Regions from separate parts of the Homo sapiens genome. Here region 2 is linked to region 1. The links come from fine-mapping of genetic effects on gene expression. Tissue or cell type: naive CD4 T cells. Region 1 holds a variant in brackets; the other region holds the start of a gene. All regions are shown on one strand. Distances are from middle to middle.

The links. PIP is the estimated chance that this variant, and not a neighbour inherited with it, causes the effect.
Region 2: it holds the start of TMEM254-AS1, and the variant in region 1 is fine-mapped to the expression of TMEM254-AS1 in naive CD4 T cells (Schmiedel 2018, PIP 0.95).

The regions. Positions count from the first base shown.
Region 1 is chr10:80,007,909-80,010,666 of GRCh38, reverse strand. No RefSeq gene overlaps it. Among named protein-coding and RNA genes, the nearest start is that of SFTPD, 60 kb to the right of the region's middle. The variant TTG/G (reference allele first, on the strand shown) is at 1,224.
Region 2 is chr10:80,078,004-80,080,534 of GRCh38, reverse strand. It overlaps TMEM254-AS1 (TMEM254 antisense RNA 1), which reads left to right and starts at 1,342. Exons shown (of 4, transcript NR_027432.1): 1 at 1,342-1,808. TMEM254 (transmembrane protein 254) reads right to left here and starts at 1,870. Exons shown (of 4, transcript NM_025125.4): 1 at 1,749-1,870. The coding sequence starts at 1,835.

The sequences.
Region 1 (2,758 bases):
ATATCTTGAAGACACTGTCCTTTCTGCATTGTATGATCTTGGTCCTCTTGTTGAAGACCATTCGACTACATTTTCCTGAGTTTATTTCTGATCTCTTTATTTTGTTTTATTGGTCTATATGTTTGCCTTTATGCCAGTACCATACTCTGTTGGTTACTATCAATTTATAATTAGTTTTGAAATCAGAAATTGTGAGATCTCCAAATTTGTTCTTCTGTTTCAAGATTGTTTTGGCTATTTTGCTTTTCTCTGAGATTCCATAGGAATTTTGTTTTTGTTTTATTGAGATAGTCTCACTCAACTCACAATTGCCCAGGCTGGAGTGCACTGGCACCATCCTGGTTCACTGCAACCTCAGCCTCCCAGGTTCAAGTGATTCCCCTGCCTTAGCCTCCCAAGTAGCTGGGATTACAGGCATGCGCCACCACACCCAGCTAATTTTTGTATTTTTAGTAGAGGTGGGGTTTCACCATGTTGGCTAGGCTGGTCTCGAACTCCTGACCTCAAGAGATCCACCTGCCTTGGCCTCCCAAAGTGCTGGGATTACAGGTGTGAGCCACTGCACTGGGCCCAGATTCCATAGGAATTTTAAGGTAGTTTTTCCTATTTCTATAAAATGCTATTGAAATTTTGATAGGGATTGCATTTAATCTATAGGTTTTAAATAGTATGAGAATCTTAGCAATATTAAATCTTGAAATTCAGGAACACAAGATTGCTTTCATTTATTTGTGTTTTGTTAAATTTGGCTCAACGTTATGAAATTTTGAGTATACAAGCCTTTTGCCTCCTTGGTTAAGTTTATTCTTAAATATTTTATTTCTTTTAGTGCTTTTTTTTTCGATATATAGGTAAGCCCAGCTGTGTGATGCTTTCATAATGGGATCGTTTTCTTCTTTTTCAGATTTTTTTTTTTTTTTTGAGACAGAGTCTCGCTTTGCCGCCCATGCTGGAGTGCAGTGGCATGATCTCGGCTCACTGCAAGCTCTGCCTCTTGGGTTCACGCCATTCTCCTGCCTCAGCCTCCCGAGCAGCTGGGACTACAGGCACACACCACCACGCCCAGATAATTTTTCGTACTTTTAGTAGAGACAGGGTTTCACCCTGTTAGCCAGGATGGTCTTGATCTCCTGACCTCATGATCCACCTGCCTCAGCCTCCCAAAGTGCTGGGATTACAGGCGTGAGCCACTGTGCCTGGCTTTTTTTTTTTTTTTTTTTTTT[TTG/G]TGACAGAGTCTCACTCTGTCTTGCTCAGGCTGGAGTACAATGGCACCATCTTGGCTCACCACAACCTCTGCCTCCCAGGTTTAAGCAATTTTCCTGCCTCAGCCTCCTGAGTAGCTGGCATTACAGGTATGCACCACCATGCGTGGCTAATTTTTGTATTTTTAGTAGAGACGGGGTTTCACCATGTTGGTCAGGCTGGTCTCAAACTCCTGACCTCATGATCCGCCGCCTCAGCCTCCCAAAGTGCTGGAATTACAGACATGAGCCACTGCACCTGGCTACTCAGATTGTTAATTGTTAATGTATAGAAACACATTTGATCTTTGTATGCTGATTTTTTTTAAAATCCTGTAACTTTGATGAATTTGTTCATTATTTCTAATAGCTTTGTTTAGGTTTTCCTATTTATGAGACCACATCATCCATAAACAGATAATTTTACTTCTTCCTTTCCAATTTGGATGCCTTTTTTCTTTTTCTTGTCTAATTGCTCTGGCTCGGGCTTCCAGTCTATCTTGGAATAGAAGTGGCAAGAGTGGACATCCTCGCTTTTCCTTACCTGAGAGGAAAAGCTTTTAGTTTTTCACTGTTGAGTATGATGTTAGCTGTGTATTTTTTTTTTTTTTTTTTTGAGACAGAGTCTTGCTCTGTTGCCCAGGATGGAGTGCAGTGGTGCGATCTGGGCTCACCTAACCTCTGCCTCCCAGGTTCAAGTGATTCTCCTGCCTCAGCCTCCTTAGTAGTTGGGACTACAGGCACGCACCACCATGCCTGTCTAATTTTTTTGTATTTTCAGTAGAGACAGGGTTTCACTATGTTGGCCAGGCTGGTCTCAAACTCCTGACCTCATGGTCCACCCACCTCAGTCTCCCGAAGTTTCGGGATTAGAGATATGAGCCACTGCGCCTGGCCTAGCTGTGGATTTTTCGTATACAATCTTATGCTGAGGTAGTTATTTCCATACATACCCATAAAATAGCCTATTTTATTACAAATGAATTATATATAACCTTAAAATCTCTTCAATAATCATCCCTCTTCTCAGTCTTCTACCTTCTTTTGATGTAATAACGTGAAAATACATCATAACGTAACAAAGTGTATGTGGCTTTAGTTTTGTACAATAAAAATATATTTGAAAAAATTATTATCCTTTCCTTGTGTTACTTTATCAAATTGCATTATGTCCCCATTATACAAGTTTTCAGTAATTTTCCATCTTCTTCATTTGCACTTGAAGGTGTTGGAATGACATTAGGTGCACAACATAGATCTAGTTCATAGCTTATGTCTACAAACATACTAGTTTTGTACTTCTTACAGGTATGTAGTAGACATTTTTTTTTTTTTTTGGAGATGGAGTTTCACTCTTGTCGCTCAGGCTGGAGTTCAGTAGTGCCATCTCAGCTCACTGCAACCTCCACCTCCCGGGTTCAAGCAATTCTCATGCCTCAGCCTCCCAAGTAGCTAGGATTACAGGTGCCCGCCACCACGCCTGGCTAATTTTTGTATTTTTAGTAGAGATGGAGTTT
Region 2 (2,531 bases), 70 kb before region 1:
ATTTAGAATTCCTTTCTCGGCTTTCCCTTTTTGTACGGCTAAAACTGAGAATGATCCACTGCATAGAGATGGAAAATAAGTGAGATAAGGTTGTGACATTTTAATAGCAACTGCTTAATCACATAAATTTTTCGTAATCTTAACTTTCAGCCTCTGTATTGTAACTTCTGTCAGCTAAGACTTTTCTGAGAATAACTCAACAGTTTCAAAATGTATTGTCCCATTCAAATCTTTGTCAAGAGCAGTACTACCTCTCTCACGATGTTGTTTCACATCTGAAAGTTAAATAATGCACAAATATCACTGCATCCTCCCAAACCAAAGGGAAAGGGGAGCATCTGCCAGCTCCACAAGATCCCAATTTGAAGTCCCCAAAGCTTTCCTCCAACTATATTCTAACTAGTCACAGACACTAAATCGTAGAACAGAAATGCACCTTTGAAAATTTTCAGTTCAACACCTCCATTGTACATATGGGGAAATCAGGACATAGGTTGTCAGATTTGACACCAACAAACAACACTGTGGACAAGACAAATCTCCAATCTCCAGGATCTATTGGTATACCCAAATAGCTTCGCCTTCCTTCAAAATTTTACCACCTTATCACTTGACGTTAGGAGTTCGAGGCCAGCCTCACCAATACCCATGTCTACTAAAAACACAAAAAAATAGCTGGGCATAGTGTAATCCCAGCTACAGGTAAAGACATGAGAATCGCTTGAACCTGGGAAGCAGAGGTTGCAGTGAGCCGAGATCGCCCCACTGCACTCCAGCCTGGGTGACAGAGCGAGACTCCGTCTCAAAAAAACACAAAACTACCACCTTAGCCCCCAACCTACTTTTCCACGCATCTTTCTCGTTATCCTTTAAACAGATTATTTCTCAGCCAAACAAACGTCGCTCTTTTTCTAGGTACAGCTTTCTTCTTGCTTCCACACCTATGTCAGAACAGTTATAGCCTCTTTATCCTCCCTTACCACTTAAATCCTACCCATCCTTTAGATTTATCCCCGTTTTCCAAACAATTCCTATTGGCTCAAACATTCTGCTTCGGAAGCCCTATTCTGACTTGGCAGGCCTATGGCAGTCTGTTAACTTGACTTTCCGCTTCGTGAGAGGCTTAGGCTCGGATAACCCGTTAGTAACCATGCAGAGGTGAGGACCCAAAGACAGGAACACTAGAAAGCAGAAACTATCCTAAGAGCCCACCGAATTTCCGCTTACATGAGTAACCGAGACAACCGTCAGATGCGCGTGCGCACAGGCCCCGTTCCCAGAGCTCCCCTCGCCCTACGAGGGCCCGGCGGGCCAAAACAGAGGCCCGCCCCGCCCCACCCCACGCCTCACCGCGAAGTAGCCCAGCCCCAGGACTGTGACCAGAGAGGGCAAGGGTCTTGCTGGACGGAAATAGGCGGTAGCCGCATTGCTGGCCTCCGACTTCACCATCCTCTTGAAAAACCCAGACACAGAGTTGGCTGGGAGCTCCCCAGCCGTCCCCGCCCCCATATAAGAAAAGCCTGGCTAGCCGGTTTCTCAGGGCCCTGGGCGCCCGCCCAAGACCCTGGCGGACCAGTATGCTTGCTCTCATTGCGGAGTCTGGTCCCCTCCCCTCCGCTCCTAGCGCGCGGGAGTCGGGATTGTGCTTGCACGACTTCCCCCGGCCCGCGGCCTGTGAGCCCAGGTCCTGGGGTGAACCGAGCGCTCGCTCGTTCGTCAGACCGTAGCGCTCCAGCGGCTGTCCTTACTGTGTAGTAGCCAAAGCTGAGGGTGATGACTGTGAACCAGAACAGACTGCCTCGCTGAAAGTAGGTCGCGCCGGCTGCCGTAGCCATGGCTGCAACACCTCCCCGGGAGCGCGCTTCAGGACACCGTCGAGCGCGAGCGCGGAGGCAGGGCCGGGGCCGGCCCGCGCTCCCTCGCCATCCCCGCAGGGAGAAGATGGTGCTGGTTGGGAAGTCCCTGAGAGCGAGTCTCCCTGTCTGGCCCCAGTACAGGGGCCTTGGAATCACACCTGGGCTCAGGTCTGGAGGGCTGGTCATCATCTTGTAGGGGAGACACTCCTGTCACTTTTCTGGGTTTAAGATAAAGATGTTCGGGCTGGCGCGGTGGCGTGTCCCTGTAATCTCAGCACGTTGGGAGGCTGAGGTAGAAAGATCCCTTGAGCCCAGGAGTTTGAGACCAGCCCGGGTAACATAGCTAGACTCTGTCTCGAATGAATGAATGAATGAATGAGGTGTTGGAATAAATTCCAGCAATTTGGGAGGCCGAGTCGGGCAGATCACTTGAGGTCAGGAGTTTGAGACCAGCGTGGTCAACATGGTGAAACCCCGTCTGTACTAAAAATACAAAAAATTTGCTGGGCGCGGTGGTGCCTGCCTGTAGTCCCAGCAACTCCAGAGGCTGAGACAAGACTCTCTTGAACCTGAGAGGTGCAGGTTGCAGTGGGCCCAGATCACGCCACTGCACTCCAGCCTGGGCAACACAGCAAGACCCTGTCTCAAAAAAAAAAAAAAAAGATGGTGTTTTAC